3 separate regions of the Homo sapiens genome follow, and all the other regions are reported to be linked to region 3. The links are microRNA targets in miRTarBase. Many come from high-throughput screens and were not tested one by one. Region 3 holds a microRNA gene; each other region holds the end of a gene's coding sequence.
Evidence for each region. Region 3 holds the annotated microRNA hsa-miR-6809-3p (CUUCUCUUCUCUCCUUCCCAG, at 3,103-3,123, opposite strand). A microRNA usually pairs through its seed, bases 2 to 8, with sites in the 3' UTR of a target mRNA and lowers its output. Matches are read on the target gene's strand: a 7mer-m8 pairs with bases 2 to 8, a 7mer-A1 pairs with bases 2 to 7 and ends in A, and an 8mer does both.

Region 1 (7,192 bases), not on the chromosome of region 3:
TGCTCCCCCTCACCTCCCTGCCAAGGCTTCCACAGGAGCTGCAGCACAGTTGGCTCCAGTCTGACCTGGCCAGAGCAAGGAGAAGAGATGGGTTTGATGCTTGTTGAAGTGGGAGGGGGTCCATGTGCTTCCGATGTCAGTGATGCTGATGCCAAGTTCCAGGAACAGGGATGCTCAGCCACACCTTCATCCAGGCCGAGGGCTAGGCCTGAAAGGTGTGCCCCTCCTAAATAAAAAATAAATAAGCTATGTATAGAGATCATCATTTTGTTTTCAGTGCTCTACGTATATTAACTCAATCCACCCATAACATTATAGGGCAGGTACTATTATTATTCACATTTGACCAGTAAAGAAACAAGTATAAAGAGGTTAAGTAATGTGTTCAAAGTCATGCAGCTAGTAATTGGTGAAGCTGGGATTTGAACCCTAGAAGCCTGGCCCAAAGTCCATGTTCTTGTCCACTGCCTCCACTGTGGGCTGTTATCCCAGGTGAGTCTGGAGGAGGTGGCATGACCTTTTAGGAGTCCAGGGTGGGCGGCCAACTAGACAGAAAGCAGCTCATGCTTCTCCACTCTTCCCCTAGATGAACATGCTGATGAGGCTGCAGGAGGCAGCCAACTACTCCAGCCCCCAGAGCTATGACAGCGACTCCAACAGCAACAGCCATCACGATGACATCTTGGACTCCTCTTTGGAGTCCACTCTGTGACAGGGGCCCGGAGCCCAGCGCCCTCCTCTTCTCCTCACCGCATTCCACCTGCATCCCCCACATCACCCTGAAGATGACTTCCTGAGCCAGCCCCCAGCCACAGCCTTAGAGCTGCGGGAACACCGAGACCCCCCGTCCTTCAGCCTCGACCTGGGTGCAGGCATCCCGGGCCAGCTGCCTGCGGACCGCTTCCTTCCACAGCGAGAACTGCACTACCTTCTGTTGTACTTTAATTATTGTTTTGCCTTGTTGCTGTGACCTCCCTAAGACACTGAAGATACTTCTCGGGAAAGGATCATCGCCGTTGAAATGAAAAGAGAGACAGAGAGAAAAAAAAAAAGAGAACCCACATGAAGCTCTGAAACCAAACAGCATCCTGCCATGAGCTTCCCAGAGACAGAAGAGACTGGAGCAAAGTCGGAAACACAGAGAAGCACGGCTTCCCCTCAGCACAGACCCTCCAGACTGGGTCTCAGAGCCGTGCCACCCACCCTCCCACACAGCCGGCCACAGGGAGAACTGGTGCTAACCAGGGTGCTTGCTTTGGTCACGTTCAACGCACTACAGAGCTACGACACAGGGAAACCTTAGGAGCAAATAAACCGTGCTTTCATGTTTTTTAAATGGTGCTTTCCTTACCCGAGAGGTATTTTGCCTGTTCCAATCAAACCACCCCATTCAGGTCCATCAGCCTCTGATTAATATCCGTGAGAGTGAGTGACGGAGTGAGAGTGTGAGCGAGTGGATGTGGCTGTCAGTGCAGAACAGCATGTGTCTCTTTCCTTCTGATATATGAATGAATCAGGTTTTTTTTTTTTTTTTTCTGCAAACACTGTGTATAGTGAGACTTGTTCTACTTTGGAGAACAGGTTACCTTTTGAAAATGAGGTTGAGTTTCTTCCTTTCTGATGCATTGATTTTTGAAGATTTTTTTTTCCCCCTTCCCCTCTTGGTCAGAATCAATCCTTTGGTGAAAGTAAGAACCGCAGGAGTTGAGTTTTGGTTTGGTCCTGCTCAGTTTTGGTTTTTAGTTGTCCATCCTCACAGTCCTACACACTCGCCTCCTCCTGCTAGGGCTGGGGGTATCTGTGTCCTTTAAAATGGATGAGGACCTGGTCCTCGACATGTGGGTGAGCCATGGACCTTGCCTTCCCTTCTCGTCCTTGAGGGTTTAGAACACACACCAACACCTCCAGCGTCCCCGCCCCAGCTTCCGGTGGGGTGATGCGGTCACCCTGCAAAAGACTTGCACTTTCCTCAGAACCAACATGACGCAGCTCAATAAGGGTGAGGGTCACTCCCTCCCAGAAGCCCCGTCTGGACGAGCCTTGCCTGACCTCTTCGGTGCTGACCTTCCCAAAGTGATGCCTTACTGGTTTTGTACTAACTGTGTTCATTTTACATAAGTGTCGTGCCTGCCTGGGGTTTGTTTTTTTTGTCATTGTTTTCCCCATTGAAACAAACAGGGCTAAAAAGTCATCTGTTCATTAGGAGAACTCAAGTTGCTGTGACTTTTCTCATCCAAAAGACTCATTTGTGTGGATGCGTGACCATGGGAAAAAGAAAAAAAAAAAGATCCATTTTTTAGGTTCTTTTCGGTCTCCAGCTGACAACCCAACTGGACAATGATCTGTCTGGTGCAGGAGAAGGCAAAAGTTTCTACAAGTCTACATGACCTTGCTGATACTTGTTCTAATAGAAACCCAGTCTGCTGTGTCTTCAACATACTGGTATTTTCATTACAAAGTATGGTAAATTTTTGAGTTGTTTGTTTCTGTTTTGTAAAGAGAATCCTTATTGGACACCAGTGAAGGTGTCTCTGTTTTAATGATCAGGGTTTTTATTCCATCTTTTGCATTTCTTCTATTTCTGAAGGTTTGTCTCTTGGCATCTTTTTTTAGTTTCTTACCATAAGAGTTTGACCCGAAACTGCTCACTTCACATTGGATGACACCATGTTCTTCCTCTTTGAAAAGAAAAGGGGAATGTGTCCCACTAGTGAAAGGAAAACTTTTCAACACTATCCCTGCTTTAGTCTCAGCAAACTCAGACTATTCTGCTTAGCCTTCATTAGTCATCTGGGTGTGAGTGTGTCTTGTTCTGTTTTTCTTTTTAATAAAACTTTTAAACCATATATTTAGCCTGTGACCAGGGGGGCCAAACCCTAAGATTTCTGGTAAACCTGAAGGGTGGCCCTCCTCAGACAATTTATCTCCCAGCAATGACCCTACTACACTCGCGTACTGTGAATTTGGGAGGAGGTAAAGTTGACTTCTCCTCGTGGGCAGTTTTCCAATCACCTTGTGAGTAGACACCTGCCAATATTGTTTGAAACCTTTTTTTAATATGACATCCTCTCTTGTCATTCTCTTCTCCCCTTTCCCACAGACTTCCCTCCTGGGTCCAGGTTCAGAACCAAGACTTCTGTACCTAGTGCTGCCTGATTGGTGAACATTGACTTCAAGTAGCATAGCCCTTGTGTGACTCACAACTCCGTGTCCTTCCTAAAGTTTCGGGAAGCAGGGTTGTCTAATATGCACATTTCTTATTTTGGTCATATTTTTACTTTAGTGTCACTCACCTTTTACAAAGTGACTTTGTACTCATTTAGGGCTCTATCGGAAATGCTTCCATTTTGCCTTTTCTACAGTTAGGCCAATTTTGAAATATATAAATTCTATGCAACATTTATGTTGAGTTACCAATGGAAGCCAAAAGTTCTCTTCCCAAACTGCCAAGAATGATACAGGCCATAATTGAAATGGGAATACCTTTTAAGTTTCATTAGGGGTGGGGTGGGAGTGGGACAGGAACAAGACTTGCCTAGATCTTTGTTGTATCTTGGGGACTTTTACTTTGTTGTTTGATGCTTAAACTTCAAAATTCTCTGTATTCAAATTTGATTGTGGCGAATCTACTTCAAAAAGGAAAAATAATCCAACTTTGTGGATATTAAATGGAAGGTTTGCTGTTTTGATCTAGTTGTTTCCAGTGGAGCAGTTTTATGAAATATGTTCTATAAGATGTACATTTTTTCATTGTAACATAGAAATTGTAAATAATTGATTAAAGTGCTGCATTTTGATGAATTTTTTCTAGCCATTTTTAAAGAGAAAACTAGGAATTGAGTATTTTGTGTACGGTATGTTTCCATCCTCCCTCCCCTTCCTCCTCCCCTCCTCTCTCTCTCTTCCTACCTATTTAATTTTCATTTGTCATGAGGTTTTTGGATTTGCCAATGATCTGCTGGACATCATGCCCCATGTCATAGAGAATAAAGCTGATGATTGTACCAGTCTTAAATTATTCATGATTCAATAAAATTGATGCTTATTTATTCAGATTAGTGGTTTGGCTTGTCTGTGCTAGAGCAAGTCCTCATAGGAGTTTTATTTCATGCTAAGAGCAAGTCAGTCTTATCTGGATGCAGCAAATGCAGGGAAAACCCCAAACCTTTGCAAACCCATCTTGGCTAGTATGCCATCAATATCCCACATCTTCTCAGTTTCTCAGGTCTTCTTGCCACTCCTGTGGAGCTTGTTAGAACTGTAGAATTTCAGATCCTCTCAGACTTTATGAATCACCAGGGATCTAGTGGATCCTCAATTTCTAACAAACTCCTAGGCAATACCAGTGCTCTAGTGCCTGGACCACACATTGAGTGGCAAGCAACATCAGTGTCCAGCCAGCCCCCTAAGTCGATCCCTTGGCATGAAAAGGATTTTTTTTTAATGTATTGAGTACCTACTAATTTCCAAATGCTTTCCCAAATACTCAGTATAATGCAAAATGATGCCAGAGAGGTATTCTTACTCCCATTTTACAAGTGGAAAAAAAAAAAAAAAAACAGAGAAAATGACGTGCCAAGGAACCTATAGCCAAGAAGTGAGTTGGAGTTTCAGCCCCATCTTCTGACCGTCCTGCCTTGCCAGGCTGCCTTCTAATCTTGGGGGCCTCCTGTCACATTGCAGCTCACATCCATAGCAGACACAGGCAGTGGGAGATGACCTTACATCTCAGCATTCACTTTGAATAGCAACAACAAAAAAGGCATGGTTTGGAGTCCTGTGGGTTCACAGTGAAATTGATCCCACATGGCTGGCTCAACTGCTCACGACATGAAGTGTCTAACTCTTAACATACAACAGTGGCCCAACCAGGGAGGAGGTAAAGAATCCAGATATTTAGCATAGGCAGTTTTAATCCCTGTCAAAAAAATAATAAAGAAGGGGTAGTACAAGTCTGACGACTAGATGTCCTGAATTCCAAGATTCTATGTCAAACATTCTATCCCATTGCTCCATGATATATTCTGAGGTTACCTAGGAAATATGATCAGCATACATAAAGGGGATGGTGGACAGATGGCTTTTTAAAGAGCAGGGAAGAGCCAGGTGCGGTGGCTCACGCCTGTAATCCCAACACTTTGGGAGGCCAAGGCAGGTGGATTACCTGAGCCCAGGAGTTCAAGACCATCCTGGCAACATGGTGAAAGCCCCTCTCTACTAAAAATACAAAAAATTAGCTGGGCGTGGTGGCACGTGCCTGTAGTCCCAGCTACTCAGGAGGCCGAGGCACGAGAATCACTTGAACCAAGGAGGCGGAGGTTGCAGTGAGCCAAGAATCACGTCACTGCACTCCAGCCTGGGCAACAGAGCAAGACTCTGTCAAAAAAAAAAAAAAAAAAAAAAAAAAGAAGAAGGGAAGGACAGGAACTGCATAACTGCATTTACGTACTCACTGGGTACCAGACGTATAGAAAATTTCACTCTATCACATATAATTACAGCACCTCTAAGAGGCAGGTGTGATTATCTCCATTTTATAGTTAAGAAAACTGAGGCTGAGTAATGTTAAATTAATACATAGTAGAAATGGAATTCTTGGTATATCTGATTCAAAACCCATGCCTTTTCTGCTACGCTAAGCTACAATCAACTTAGATAGGACTTCGATGGAGGATTACACATCCCTTCTGCATTAGCTCTTTATTGCTGTGTAACAAATTAACCCCAAATTTGGCAGCTTACAGCAGAACATTTTCTAACAGTTTCTGTGGATCAGGGGTTCAGGTATGTCTTGTTGAGTACTGTGCCTCAGGGTTTCCCACAGAGCTGTAGTCAACATGTCTGAAATAAAATTTGCAAGGAAGAAAATATTTAAAAGCAAGAACAATATAAATCATATTTAATGGTAAAATGTTAAATGTTTTTCCTTGCAGATTAAGAAACAGATAAAGATGTCTCTTACCACCACTGAATATTGTGGTAGAGATCCTAGTCAATACAGAGAAACAAGAAAAATAAATTATGAGGATTGGAAAAGGAAGAAATTCAACAGTCTTTATTCACAGGTAACACTTTGTATTTAGATTATGCAACAGAATTTACCGGTAAGTTATTAGAAATAATAAGGTAACTAAGTTTTCAAAGTCAGTACATAAAAATCAGTTGAACATCTATATGTTGCCAGAAGTTTTAAATTTTTAAGAATACCAATTTAGGCTGGGCACGGTGGCCCACGCCTGTAACCCTAGTACTTTGGGAGGCCGAGGCGGGCGGATCACGAGGTCCGGAGATGGAGACCATCCTGGCTAACATGGTGAAACCCCATCTCTACTAAAAAATAGAAAAAATTAGCCAGGTGTGGTGGCGGGTGCCTGTAGTCCCAGCTACTGGGGAGGCTGAGGCAGGAGAATGGCGTGAACCCGGGAGGCGGAGCTTGCAGTGAGCCGAGATCGCACCTCTGCACTCCAGCCTGGGGACAGAGCAAGACTCCATCTCAGAAAAAAAAAAAAAAAAACAATTTAAGAGCACAAATGTCAAACACTGCAGAATAAATGCAATATAAGGTGTGCAAGACTTCTATAAAGAAACCTATTAAACATAGTTGAGAGAAATTAAACCCCAAATAAAAGTAGGAAAATATTATGCTTTTGAGTTAGAATACATGTTGTGAACACGTCAATCCCTGCAAAATGAGATTTGATGCAATCTCATTTAAAAGCCCAACAGAGTTTTTATAGAATTGACAAAATGATTCTAAAACTTACATGGAAATGCATGGAAACTTAATGGAAATGCAACAGGTGAAGCATAGCCAATGAACAAGAACAAGAAGAGAGAGTTTTTTCTACCAAAAATCAAGACTTATTATAAAGGTCATTAAGACCTTATGCTATTGGTATAAGAATTGACAAATAGTTAAAAAGAACAGGATAGACACCCCTGAAATAAACCCAACACACACTTGCTTTGCTATATGGAATCATGAATAATGTCTCAGAAGCAAAGAAAATGTGACAAAGAACACATGACAATGGGATCCACTGGTTTTTACTCTAAAGCCGAAGGTTGGACTGCCCTCTTCAAGGTTAGTGTAACTAAGGCACCAGCTCAGGAAAGACATTTTGTGTTAGAGCACTGTCATCTAGGAAACAGTATAAATTTTCAACGGTCAGCCATTATTTGTTGTTTGTTG
Region 2 (7,192 bases), not on the chromosome of region 3:
TAAGGTATTTCTAAGGCAACCCTCTAGATACTTTTCTAGGTATTTTCTACCTCTTAGTCACATTAAATAACTCTGACAGAAGAAAAATAAACACAAGTACTCCCAGCTCATACTTTTGTTTTTTCGTTCTTTTGTTTTTAAATCTGTTTCTGCAAACAAAGCTTCATCTCTGGTAAAGAGAGAAGTCTTGGTCTTCCCAGGGCTGCCCTGCCTTTGCAATCCCTTAGCCATAAAGAAACCTTTAAGAGTACATTTTAAAAGGACAGCCTGCAGCAATGATTTAATCCTGGGAAATCCCAGTGCTCTGAACTCCCCACTTTCCAAGCCTGAGGGCGAAATCCTTTCCCAACCAGTGTCTGACCTTCCCTATCCTCAGCCAGGACCCCTGCTTGGCATGCCTGTGATGTCATGAATTAGCTCTCAGTCTCCAGTGACTTGGACCGGGGAGACAGATAGGTGTGACCATGAATTGAGAGTCGGTGTTAGGGAGATCTTAGCTCTCTTGGTGCCACAGGACTCTGGCATCCTGATGCTTGGCTTTGGAAACAAGAGAGAATGACTGAAGAAAGAGGGAGGGGTGACTTTAAAAGGAGACCTTTACTACTCAAAAGGTAATCTTTGGGCCAGCAGCAACAACACCGTCTGGGAGATTGTTAGAAATTCAGAATCTCAGGCCCCAACCTAGACCTTGCGAATCAGAATCTGAATTTTAACGAGATCCCTGGGTAATTGTTATGGCAATAAAGGTTAGAAGTACCGACTCACAATTGTGCCTATTGTGGTGAAGATGGAGTAACTTCCCTGAATGACATTAAAAAGTTGCGTAGTTTGCTTGTTGATACTCCGTTGTTTTGGTAGTGGGGTAAGAGATGCATGGCAGCATCAAGAGAAGAGGGTAAGGGTCCTCACCCGCAGTCTTTCCAATATACCATTTCAGCCCAGTTCCCAGGGGAGACGGCCACATTCCTGCAGAAGGGGGTTCCCGGGGTCCGGGGAAATAAGCCTACCCTAAGCGAGTTTCGGAGACCCAGGGGACACTGGAGTATCCATGTGGAACCCCAGATTCAGCAACAGGCTGAGAAGGTCACTGTCGGAACAAGATGCACAGCCAAATGCCCTCTCCCCGTGCCCAAACACAACCCAACTCTCTCTCTGGCCAAGCTGGACGCCGTTAATGCTCTGTTTCTATTCTGTTGTCACCCTAGGATAGTCATTGCAACGTGACGCCCTTGTCCTTTCAGGTTCAGGCGCAGCTGCAGCTGGACAGCGCTGTGGCGCACGCGCACCACCACCTGCATCCGCACCTGGCCGCGCACGCGCCCTACATGATGTTCCCAGCACCGCCCTTCGGACTGCCGCTCGCCACGCTGGCCGCGGATTCGGCTTCCGCCGCCTCGGTAGTGGCGGCCGCAGCAGCCGCCAAGACCACCAGCAAGAACTCCAGCATCGCCGATCTCAGACTGAAAGCCAAAAAGCACGCCGCAGCCCTGGGTCTGTGACGCCAACGCCAGCACCAATGTCGCGCCTGTCCCGCGGCACTCAGCCTGCACGCCCTCCGCGCCCCGCTGCTTCTCCGTTACCCCTTTGAGACCTCGGGAGCCGGCCCTCTTCCCGCCTCACTGACCATCCCTCGTCCCCTATCGCATCTTGGACTCGGAAAGCCAGACTCCACGCAGGACCAGGGATCTCACGAGGCACGCAGGCTCCGTGGCTCCTGCCCGTTTTCCTACTCGAGGGCCTAGAATTGGGTTTTGTAGGAGCGGGTTTGGGGGAGTCTGGAGAGAGACTGGACAGGGGAGTGCTGGAACCGCGGAGTTTGGCTCACCGCAAAGCTGCAACGATGGACTCTTGCATAGAAAAAAAAATCTTGTTAACAATGAAAAAATGAGCAAACAAAAAAATCGAAAGACAAACGGGAGAGAAAAAGAGGAAGGGAACTTATTTCTTAACTGCTATTTGGCAGAAGCTGAAATTGGAGAACCAAGGAGCAAAAACAAATTTTAAAATTAAAGTATTTTATACATTTAAAAATATGGAAAAACAACCCAGACGATTCTCGAGAGACTGGGGGGAGTTACCAACTTAAATGTGTGTTTTTAAAAATGCGCTAAGAAGGCAAAGCAGAAAGAAGAGGTATACTTATTTAAAAAACTAAGATGAAAAAAGTGCGCAGCTGGGAAGTTCACAGGTTTTGAAACTGACCTTTTTCTGCGAAGTTCACGTTAACACGAGAAATTTGATGAGAGAGGCGGGCCTCCTTTTACGTTGAATCAGATGCTTTGAGTTTAAACCCACCATGTATGGAAGAGCAAGAAAAGAGAAAATATTAAAACGAGGAGAGAGAAAAATAATATTAACACAAAAAAATGCCACAGACAATGATTTCTCTGAGAAATTATTATGGCAAAACTGTCTGGACTGCTGACAGTAAATTCCGGTTTGCATGTTACTTGTATTCCATTGATGGTGTGTCTCCTCCCACCCCCTTATCTCCCATGCACTCACTCCATTTTCATCTTCACTATGAAAAACAATACCAAAAGTATCTGGAAATTGATATATATATATCCATATATATATATCATATATTTGCCATATATATATATATATATATATATATATATATATATATATATTTGCCCTGTCTTTGATCCTGGGGAACAAAAGAAAAAAGTCAGAAAGGGAAAAAATTACACTCATTGTCCTAAGAAGACAGAGGTGGGCAGAATATGTGGGGAAAGGAAAAAGAAAACAAGACCACCAAATGAAATAATGAAGGTACAGCGCCTCGCTGTGCCAGACACAGTAGGCGCTCAATCAGTATTAGTTCCCACCATTCCCCTTTTCTTGTGTTCCTTCTTGTTGGTTTCCTGAAGTCCTATTTGAAGACAGTGGTTTATTTCCCCCTCTCTATCCCGTCAAATTCACCTTAAATAACACCCAGCTAGATACAGGCACTAGGTTTGTGTAAGATATGTTGATACACACGAACAAAGTTTATTTTGACTATAATGTGTGGACTGACTTTCAACATTTGCATTTTATCTCACAAAGGTGTATCTATTCAAGTAACCTTTTTTTTTTGTTTGTTTGTTTCTTTTTTGTTTTTTTTTTTCTTTTGGTTGTTTGTTTCAATTCATGTAGCTATTTAAACTGGGATACCTTGGACTAAGCCAGTCTGTATCCCAATTCGCTAGCAAGCCTAAGTTTGTGGGGTTTTGTTTTTGTTTTTGTTTTACCTTCTAATTTACAAGAAAGAGGAAAAGCTCTTCTAACTGAACTTTGGTATGCGGTTGAGCTTTGTAACTATTTGTTCTCCATGAAAACAAAATTATTTATATTTGACATATTTTTTTCTAGTGTATTAAGTTATTTTAAACAAAAGATGTTATCTCATGACGTGTTGTCAGTACAAAATGTGTCGCCTCCAATTCTGTTAAACCTTTTAAATAAGTGCCAAGTTATTAATTGAAGACACTTTGCGATCAATTGAATGAAAATATCGTTTCATTTGATGGGGTTCGAGTCATCTTTGTTCCTGTTACTATTAAAATATCCGGGATAGTCTTTCCCTTTTGATTAATGCGTATCACTCTCTCGAATATACCAACTTGGAAAAGCGCTTGCCTCTGCTCTTACGTGCCGCAGTCAAGGGGCAGTAAGAAGGGTGGCTCTGTGGCTGTCGTTAGCGCTGAGCGCATTTCCGCCGGCCCCCTCCATTTTATCCACCCAGCATAGAAACAGGGTTATACCAAATTAATGAAAGAACAGATAAGAAGTAAAATAACATAGGATAGAGTAACTTCCTTCCCCAAGATGGACTCTCGTTATTCGTTTTGCTATAATTCCAGTCTTTATCTGGGGACACTTTTGGGAGGAAGGAAGGAGGGATCCTGCGGAGCGAAATCAACCTGGGTTTGGTATGGCATAATCGACAATCAGTCCCAGTTCGTTGACCCTCTCTGGAGCGGGGCAGGTGCTGACTTCGGAGCGGGAAAAGAGCCGCAAAGGCGGGCAGGCCAGGGCACTGTGGAGGGAGGATTCCCCATCTGACACTCCTGTTTAGGGTTGGCTGAAGCAGCTTCTTCATTGGTTAAATTTAGAAGGTGGAAGCCAGAATCGGGTTTAGGAAAAGCCTGGCCTTGAAAATAATGAGGAGCTCTCTCTCCCCATGTCGTGGCCCCCTTCTGGAAGAAATCCCACTAGTAAAGCCCAAAGGTGCTGCCTGTGTGGGGATAGTTGGAGACTTTGAAGACTCGGCCCTGACCATGTCCAAGGCAGGAACTTTCCTTCCCGCGCGGGCTCTTGTGATGACGGGACCTTCCGCAAAGACTGAAAGAGTCCTGAGCGTCCCCTGGGACCCCCCACCCTCGTGCTGGAGGGTGCGTAAAACCCCTGCCAAAGCCCCACATCCTCCAGCAGTGTTCCCCACCACCCCCACTTGGCCCTCTCCCAGGTCTTAGCTCGTATTCAAAGCTGTTCCTCAGCATAGACGTGGGCGATAGGTTTCTTTCTTTTAACTTTCAAAGACCACTGAACAGGATTTGGGCCGTATTCAGTGCGCAGGCCTTGCGGGTCTCCTGGTTGATGAACGTCGGTAGTTTTTAATAATAAACATCTGCCTGCGGGCATGGTACGCCCTGAAGCAGCCAGGCCATCCGCCGTGGTCCTGTGGCCTCCAGCGAGCTCCAGTCGGCGCCGGGGCCGGGGGTCCTAACAGGCAGGCTCCAAGCTCCAAACCCTAATCCTAACCCAGATCCCAACACGGGTTCGGACCCTGGAGACCCTGGAGCAGGGGAGATGGTGGCTCCCTCTCGGGGCCAGTCTGCCCCAAGCAGCGGAGCGCGGGGGAAGCCCGAGGTCAAAGGAGGCGGTGCGTCCAGGCCCTGCTGGCGGAGGCGCCGGGTATCGGTACAGAGGCTCAGTGACGCGGCGTGGGTGGGTCGGGAATGTCCCGTGCGATAGGAGCCAGGTGGGTTCGGCGCGGAGACCCGCGGGAGTCGGGCCGCGGCGGGAGCGCGGTAGGCGGAGAGGCCCGCGGAGGCAGCCAGGTCCGGCGAGAAAGGCCAAAATTTCTTGGCCCCATTCGCAGTGCTCCACTCGGGCACGGCCTGTGGGACCAGTGCATCCGGGGAGCTCGCGGCGCCCTTGCCTCCTCTTGCGTCTGCTCCCCCAAGACTAACGGAGGACAGAGGCCGCTTTCCTTGGCCCTGTGGAGTCTCGCCCTTCGGGTCCAGACTCCCGCAAGGCCTGCTCTCCCGGAATGCCAGTGTCCAAACTCTGGGGCAGGCGCCTCGGTGTGTGAACAAGAGTTCCAAACTCGTAGTTCCCCGAACCATCCCAAGAAGGGGTCTGAGGAATTCACTTTAAATTTAAATAAGGCCCAACATGCTTGTAGTTTGGGTCGAAACTCAATAATCCTAATATAATTAATAAAGGACACCCCCATCCTCTGCTCCCCAAATCTTTTGGGCATGCAAAACCTTCCCGAGTTGCAAAATCAATGACTGGGAAAAACTGAGTTAAAAGAGATTGTTTAAGACATCATTAGTGTTAAGGACCCTATGATACAAGAGACACAGTAAGATAGTAAGATCGGTGCCTTTGCTTGGAGCTGAACTGATGTACATCTATTTTGAGTTTTTCCCCAGATTTATAACTTTTTTGGGTCCTCAGATGGTAATACTTTAGTATAATGCAATGCTCAAATTTCGGAACTATTTTGATTTCTGAAAAATGCCTCTTTGGCTTCAGCGACATAGGATCCTGTTTTTTCTTCACAAATCAGTTTACATCATAAATTGCAAACATTTGCAATAAGATCTCAAGATTGTTTATTTTACATAACCTCAAGCACTTGACTATGTTAAACACCAGTACAGAAAATCTGTGAAATCAGTTTAATGTGTGTGAGGGAATTAAAGGATCACTCATTTTCATCACATAAACAAAGCATTTAAGATTGTTTTGATTGTCAGTCTCCCAATTTTTAGTCATACAACTGACTATTAATTTAAGAGTCATTCTGTGTAAAAATAATTACTGAGGTTATATCCTGCTTTAATTAAATATTTCTGGGCAGAAGAAAATGGTATTGTACATTGGGAAGTGGGGGATTGTTTTTAATATTATATTATTTTAGTTCAAACGGAAATAAAAGTCTGCAAATTCCAACGGGGAAAAAAGGCCTGAAATGGTTTCTTAATATGCCATTAAAACAGTTAGCCAAAATACATTAAAGCAATATCACAAACCCAGAAATAATAAATATGTCATTCTAATGAGAATGTTAACTTACAGATAATTTATTCAAGGTAGTTTTTACATTTCACATGGAATGTCTTATTATGACCCGCTTGATTACTGTGATGCTTGTTCTTCAAAATCTAATTTATATAGGCCTGCAATATACATAATTCATAACTCCTGTTGATATACGTATACACACCCCAAATTTTAAATCTTTACAGTATGTTTGGATGTTTACTAGCATGTTTTCAAGATGACGAAAATAAAAACATAAAAAGTGTTAAACATCATATTGAAAGCAAGTGCTTGCCCTGCCCTATGCCTGAAGGCAAAGTAGCTGAAAATGAAAAAATTAAAAAGGATTAGATAATTTTCAAGCTCAGGCATTGAGTGAGCACTGAAATATTTCAGACAAAAAAAAATCTTGTATAAGAAATCTGAAAATCCCAAGAAAGACTTACAGATGTGAGTGTATAACACTTCTGATGCCTAGACAATTTTTTTTTTGGTGTCTAATTCATGAAACAAAAAATCCTCGAGTCTCGGGGTATTTTGTTTTGGGTATTTTACATGTCAGTCAAGGTAACCATTACATATGCCTTCGGTGCAGGAAAGTTTAGTATAATACGCGGAGTTCTATTGGCATGAGGAAAGGTTTTAGAATATAATCAAATACATCAAATAGGGAGGAGTAAACATGCTTCTTTTCTTGCTGAACAACTCCTCATATGTCCTGAGTAAGGATCTTTGTAGACTCTTATTCAAGCAGAATAGTGTATGTTTAAGAGCACACACTGTGGAGCTATGCTTCACTGCTGGATTCAAATTTCACTGCTACTGTTTACCAGTCCTCTGATTTTGGACAAGTTAATCTCTCTGTCCCTCAGTTTCCTTATCTGTAAAATGTGGATAAAAATAGTGTCTATCTCATGGAATGGTTAGG
Region 3 (7,192 bases):
CCTCTCTGTGCTCTGGCAAGTGCCTGCTTGCTAGGGCTGCTGCAAAGGTTAAGTGCGTGGAAAGCAGTTGGAACAGGGCCTGGCTAGTAGCAAGCGCTCAATAACCTGAACTCTTATTGGTACTCTCTTCTCCTGGCCAGCACACACATGCACACACAGAGTTCCAGATGCTACATTCCAGCTGCAGCACACTCCTTAGAGGAGAGCTGGGCTGGAGAGTGATTGAAGACTCAGGCACGAGAGCTGCCTGAGGGGAAAGGCAGATAAACAAAGAGAAGAGGGCATGCTGGCACAGGGGCTGGTGGCAGGGATACCAGTCATGTAGAGGTGGTGAGCAGATGGAAGCATAGAGGGCACAGGACAGTGGGCACGAGGATCCATCCTCACCAGGTAGTTGCCTCCATGTTTGGACTTGAGCATCTGCGCCACCTCACGGAGGTTGCTCCGGAAGTTCTCCTCATTGGCTGTGCTGGGGAAGGAGACAGCGATGATCCTCTCTGTGACGTACACCAGGTCCAGCTCACAGCTGTCCTCCATGGTCCGGCTCACACTCATGTTTCTAGGGAGACAGCAGGCAGCGGAGGGTCCATATCAGAATCCAGCCCACAGGGAAGGCCCCAGATAGCTGCACCCCATACACACCCTGTGTGACCCCCATATGCAGCCCAGGGTGCTTGGCTGCTCTTCAACCCAAGGCCAAGGCCACAGGCTTCCTCTGGCAAGGCCAATGTGGCCGGCTTGGGAGTGCCGGCGAGAACAAGCTGGGTAGGGCTGGCAAGGACCTCAGGCCATTTCAGAACCAAACTGTGATGACACCAATTCTTGGTTCCCATCAGTCCTTTGGCCACTGCCTTCAACCTGTGACTCCAGAGCTCAGAGCCAGGGCCAGACTGGCCCAGGAACCCAGGAGCTCTGGCTCCCAACACTGGCTGCCTGGCCAGGCAGAAGTCTCCCGAAAGGCCCCAGACTGCTCTGGAAGAGGAAGGAGAGCCTGCGCTGGGCGCTCTCCAGCCCTGGAACGGAGACTTCCCACTGCCCGCCCCTAGCTCTCGAGCTGTGGAGTGGGCGGGAAACCTCTCAGGGGAGGGGGCATCTCAGGTGACACGTTCACCTGGGTTCCAGGTAAGCCAGACCACAGCACACATTCCAGCCCTCCCGGAGGCAGGCCAACTCCTGCCCTTTGTTCCTTGGCCTTCTCCCCACCTCTGGCAGCTCCCACTGCCTGCCAGAGCTGCTTCTTGGCAGCAGCCTCCCTGATTTCTAAGGGCCCAGAAAACAAGAGGGCACAGAGCCCTTGTTGCTGCAGTGGCGGGCAGCCGCCAGCACCATGCGTTTCCCGGAGAGGTGGGGAGGCCCCTGGGCTGGCCATCCTCTCCACTGGGCACTGGGTGAGGAAGGGAGGGGCTCGCATCTTTACATCTCTCCCAACTTTTCTTCCAGAGGAAGGGTCCAGGATGCCCACTTGGGAAGCCCACCTCTTGCTTCTAGAAGCACCTCCCCCATCCCTCCAGCTTTTTCCCCAATCATTGACCTCCTAGTGTCTCGCTTCCCCCTCTATCAAATGCAGGCAGCACTGACATTTCATTCTGCTAACCTTTCACCACAGCGGGATAAAGTGGAGAGTGGAGGGCAGCGAAAGGAATACCACTGGGGTATTTAAAAGTGATGAGGGCTCTCTGGCACTAGACAGAACAAGCCCCCAGATGCTGAGAAGCCATGAGGAATCCAGACCTCCACCAGGGTTCAATCCCAGTCCAGGTGGGGTGTGGAGATGGGGCAGCCAAGGATGAGGCATGGCAGGACCTCTCTGTTGGGATGACAGGGGCCTGAGTGGGACTGGGGACCAGCACCCAGAGGTAAGGAGCCCGGTTTGAGTTTGACTCTGAGTCCCAGCTACTTCTTGTCCCTATGGAAAGCTTCTCATTGCAGCTGTGGGGGAGAAGTTTCTATCTCAAGCCAACTGCCTACCCAAGGACAGTTCTTGTAGGTGGTGACCAGTCTGGGACAAGAAGCCACACGCACACATACCTGCAAGCAAGTGGGTGTGAGGGCGGGGAGCCTCAGCTAACTTGCAGCATCCCCTCCTCCCCATCCTCCAAAACCCCTCTCTGTTCTGGCTCCAAGGAAGAAACTAGAATGTCAGAAAAACTCGCAAGACAAGCTCCTGTGATTTCAGCCTCTCCCTCAGCACAGGAAGGGGAGCAAGAGGGGCCGTGCTGGTGAGGGCCATGAGTCAGACGTGGCCCATCTGGGGCACTGACCCGCCCCTGTCTACAGGCTGGATCCCAGGAAGGACGCAAATGCAGAACAGTGCCACCAGCCGGACAGCCTCAGCATCACACTCTGCATCCACCTGCCCAGGTCTAAGGGAAGGAGGGGATCCTCTAAGGAGCCACCTCCAGTCTGTGGACAGCTGGCAGCTGGGCCAGAAACTTCCAGGGGCTTCAACTCTACTGCAGGGCTGGCATCCCCAATCATCTCAGGAGCCTCAGTGGGTGAAGGTGAGGCAGAGAGGGCAAAACAAACTCTCTGGATCGCCAGGACACAAAGTCCCTTGTGCATCCCCTTCCCCCGGCCCCTGCCAGCCCAGCCAGATAGGGAACTTCCCTTTCATAAATGACTCTGCCCAGTCAGAATCCTGTCTGCAGAGAGGAAGAGATCCAGCACAGGCCTCAATGCTCATCAGCCCTAAACGCAAATCCAAGTGCTGCCTCTTGGTGGCTGTGTGACCTTTACAAGTCACCTCATCTCTCTGAAATGCTGCTCTACCAAAGGGAATAAAATACGTACCTTGCGGGGTTGTTGCAAGGACTAGATGAGCTCATGCAGGTAAATAAAGACTCAGCTCAAGGGCTGGCTAAGAGCTCAAAACACAACTGTTGCCAACGGCATCCGCACGCATCCTCTCCTGTGCCTTTCACGTTTGCCCACACTCCCCACCCGTGGCTTTATGGCTGCAGTCCGGGGGACCCAGAGGCAAGACTTAACAGGGACACCCACAGTGACCCCCCTGCTTGCACTCCCGCCCCCTGCCCCCACGGGCCAGGCATACCTGATGGGCTGGAGGTGGGGCTGGACACTCGGGGTGACCCTGGTGGAGCCCTGGGAAGGAGAGAAGAGAAGCAGCATTATGCAGGGGTGGGCAGGATGGCAGGAGGAGCACACCAGAGAGCTGTCCACGGGGGCAAACATGATCCTCTTCTTTCCTTGCCAACATTCTGGCCCTGCCACCCTAACCCCTGCAAAAACACAGCCTGCCCGAAGCCAAAGCCATCAACACTGATTCCACGTGAGTGTGCCTGCCTGTGTGCAAGCCCCAGAGGGACAAAAGGAAGAATCCCGAATGCTGAGGAGTGCACCCCACTGGGCTGGTGCCATCCACACTGAGGGCACACTCAACAGTTACTGAATCAATGGAAACACACTTCACTTTGATACACTCGCCAACACAAGAGAAACCCCAGGAGGAGAATACGACTGCCACCACAAAAGGAGCGATGAGAGTAATGGCGCCCCTCTGTCTTGCCACCATCACCCCACACTTCTCTGCTTGAAAGCTGTAACATCAAGTCATTCAATTGAGTTTAGAGACCAGAACAGGCAGGTGGAGCATGCAGGAACCAAGACGAGGCCTAAGACAGTGAGCCATGCTCCTGAGGGCCCACTCCCCACTGTCTGTGGCAGACAGTAACCATCTCACCCACTCCCCTTTTCACAGCTGTCGAGTGGTACAAACTTAAGCAAATGGGCCCAATCCATCCCAGGGCAGCAGGATGGCATGGCGGGTGTGAAAGCACAGGGTCAGAGGCCCACAGACCACAGAGTTTGGATTCCAGGATCCTGCTGGGCAGCCCTGCCAGTTACTTAACCCCTCTGAGCCTCTTGTAATGTCACATGTAAAATGGGACAACCTTCAGGCTGGCAGTGAGGATCCAAAGGAGTTATGCATATAAGGCACTTCGCATCATGCCTGGTATTTACCAGATGACAGCTGTTGTTTTTGTTGTTACTTTTGTATCAAGAAAAATGAAAAGGGTAGTTACAACCAAACATTCACCTCTATAGAAAACCAACACCCTGCATCGCCTCTACCCATCCTTCCAGTCACCTCACAGGATGCAGAATTGGGAAGGCCAGTTTCTAGATTCTCAGACCTCCTGAGCCCATTGACACCTTCCAAACACCCATGTGCCTCTCAGAAAATGGTCTTTTCCTACCGCCAAGTTGCAGCCTCTTCTTTAAAGAGACAGGACCACAATCTGCCAAGAAAGGAAGAAACTGAGGCACAGAATAACTTACCCTCAAGTCCCTGGGAAGTTGACGGCCAGGCAGGATTCACACTCCAACCTGGGGCTTGACCACGGGGTCTCCAAGAAGAGGAGCCCCTGCACCCCTCTCCTGGCTCCGCAGTGCCTACGAGGCAGGATAGGTGGGTTCCGAGGTCCAGCTCCCAGCTGAGCCCCAAGTTAGAGCAGCTCTGCTAAGAGGGGGACCCTCCATCCAGCTGTCCGGAAGAAGGCTCTGCCCAGAGTCCCAGCTGCCTCGGACCAATGAGCAGCTCCTCAGCAGTGAAGGAGGGAAGAGCCAAGTGGGGCTACTGGGGGGAAGTTTCTAAGTCTCACAGCTCTTCTGGCCCTGAGGACTCCAGTTTGCATGAGTCAAGCTTGGGGGTGGGGGGATTAGACAGGGGTGGAGCTGGGAGTCAACGAGTGACTGTGTTTGGTTTTCAAGACCCAAACCAGGCTGTTCCAAAACTGCCCCCTCAGAGGAACACAGAAACCCAACAGTTCACCCATCTCCATTTCACTGGTCCCTAATGAGGAGTCCCTGAATCTCCCCAGGCCCTAGGCCCTGCTCCAGGCCCCAGGGCCACCCTGCTATAAATAGCCCCTTGAGTTTCATCTGTTGCTGATCCGTAGCCACTTTTGGAGGAAGCCACCACAGCTGCTTTGAACAACTGGAAGCCACAACGGTAGCCAAGACGTGAGGTGTGGCCAGGAGCATGGGACCAGACCCAGGGAGCTGGAGAAAGACAATGGGCCATATTGATATGGGCTTGGCAGGGGGAACTGGGGAACCAAGGGGGGCCGGGAGCCTGCAAAGGTGCAGGGGTAAGCAGGACAAGCAGGACAGGAGACCTGGCTCCCCTTTCCCCACCGCCCTCTTCCAAACATTACAACACTCCACATTCCTCAGCCTCCCCACCCCAAAAAAAGCCAGTGAAGATAAATAAAAACTTGGCCCAAACAGAGTCTGGCCAGGCCGCCTCCAGAGGTGATAAGGCAAAGTCCAAGCCCGCTCTGCTCCACCGGGCGGGGAGGGGAGGGGAGGCATGGGGAGGAAGCCACCCTGGACAGTGACCCCAGTGCAGAGGATGGGGGACGAACAGCTGGGACTGTCATCCCCTGATGAATCACTGGGCTGCCCTCTCACTGACGGGGCTTCCTGTTTTCTGCAAAGTTTGGGGGCACGTGACCCTTGCTGGCGGACAGCAGACATGCACGGTGACACGTCTGAGTGTCGGTACACACAGACAGACAGAACTCAGAGAACAACAAATGGGCTGGGGCAGGGGCACGGCATGTCAGCAAACACACCCTACTGCTCCAGAAACACAGGTGACCTCACACGAGGCTAGAGATGGTGCCTTTGGAAGCATGCCTCATCACGTAGGCTTTTTACAAGCACAGTGGGAGTAACACAAGGCATCCGGTCATCCCTGGGCCTCCAATCTTCATGCTCATTCTCTCATTCAGCAAACATCCACCGAGTGCCACCAGCTGTGTGCCCAGCCATGTTCTAGACACCAGGGGACAAAGGAAGTGAAGTCCCTGACCTCAGAGAGCTTATATTTTACAGACCATGATACTCATCACCATACCCAGTGTGAGGAGTAGAGGTTCCGTCTCATTTGTCCATCTGTAAAATGGGCACTGCACAGTGCTCACATAATCTTCTGCCTACTCCGCGTGGAGCCCCTAGGGAAAACGACTACAGGACTTTACAAACCTTATAAAAAGGAAAATAAGCTCTCTGCCTGCCTGTAATCCTATTCTTTTCCTCTCCGGGGATCACAAATCACCTTACCCAAATGGCTTTGAACTTCTTCCTGGCTCCTCTCAAGACACAGGTTGATTACAGAACTTTTCATCCAACTCTCTAAACACCAAACAGAACTCTCCCCATCCTTACCTCCAAAACACAATCCTTCCTTTGCTGAAAGGGCACCATGAAAGGAAATTCGACAGCCTCCCAGACAGAGTGTCTTACTTTTCTCACTGTCAGGAATTTCCTCCTGGTATCTAACCCTCATCCTTCCTGCTGCAGATTCAGCCAACTCTTTTTGCCTTGGTCCTCATTGCAGGCAAGAGTGGATCACCACTCAGACACTACTGGGTGGCTCAAGGTCTATGACCCCAGGTTCTGTTATCTGCTGCCTTCTTCCCCGTCATGAGGCAAGGAGCACGAACCTCCAGCCTTGGGTGGGGTTGGTTTGAAGCAATGCCTCTGTGGGAAGAGCCCTGCTTTCCTTTGAGGTCCACAGACCAAACACAACAGCTCAGGACCAAAAGAAAAGCCATTTCCTGAGCCCAGATCCCCAGAGGGGCACAGTTGGGAGGAGGGTCTGTAAGCGAACACCAGGGGCCTTGTCAGGCAGCCAGAGATTGGTGACCAACCTACGTCAGGGGCCCGGCCCCATTCCTACATCTCCTCTGGGGGCTGTGGCCAACCCCCACATAGCACCCCCTTCAGCCACACCCCTTCCCCTCTCCTTCCTGCCCACTAGCCTGGATTTTTCCAAAACAAAGTGCGACACAGCACACTATCCACAAACTCCACTACACACCAACTCGGCAGGAGGAAAACAGCCATTCCTGCCTGTGAGTCCTGGGCCGTGGGCCAGAGACAGCAACACAGCTTGACAAACAGCCACATTATCACAGCAGCAGGCCCAGGTCCTCCTCCCCCGGGGTGGACTGCTGGAGAGTCCCGTGGCTGGGCAGGGGACTGGCTCAATGACCCTGGAGCCAACCCAACCTGAGACAGGTGACAGGAGCCTTACAAATTAGGTTTTCTCTCCTCTTTTACAGTACACAGGCCGTTCTGGTAGCTGCTCACTTGCTTACCTTTCCAAAGCTCATTTTGTCTCTCCTCCCATAGCCAGACAAGACAGCACACTTACCCACCCCGA

Region 1: the mRNA of NAV2 is a reported target of hsa-miR-6809-3p. Seed matches in the 3' UTR shown: 7mer-A1 at 1,038-1,044, 7mer-m8 at 1,051-1,057, 7mer-m8 at 2,497-2,503 and 8mer at 3,821-3,828.
Region 2: miRTarBase lists SHOX2 as a target of hsa-miR-6809-3p. Seed matches in the 3' UTR shown: 7mer-A1 at 1,918-1,924, 8mer at 2,316-2,323 and 7mer-A1 at 2,340-2,346.

What each region holds. Positions count from the first base shown.
Region 1 is chr11:20,117,547-20,124,738 of GRCh38, forward strand. NAV2 (neuron navigator 2) reads left to right here. Exons shown (of 38, transcript NM_145117.5): 38 at 587-4,055. The coding sequence ends at 712. It overlaps LOC107984418 (a long non-coding RNA gene), which reads right to left. Exons shown (of 3, transcript XR_001748477.2): 3 at 1-226. It overlaps LOC124902643 (a long non-coding RNA gene), which reads left to right and starts at 5,394. Exons shown (of 3, transcript XR_007062615.1): 1 at 5,394-6,065.
Region 2 is chr3:158,092,334-158,099,525 of GRCh38, reverse strand. SHOX2 (SHOX homeobox 2) reads left to right here. Exons shown (of 5, transcript NM_001163678.2): 5 at 1,242-3,621. The coding sequence ends at 1,499. Among named protein-coding and RNA genes, the nearest start is that of SHOX2, 10 kb to the left of the region's middle. RefSeq lists an enhancer at 1,359-1,528.
Region 3 is chr2:217,897,411-217,904,602 of GRCh38, forward strand. It overlaps MIR6809 (microRNA 6809), which reads right to left and starts at 3,218; the gene lies at 3,103-3,218. TNS1 (tensin 1) reads right to left here. Exons shown (of 33, transcript NM_001387777.1): 7 at 3,053-3,102; 8 at 388-559.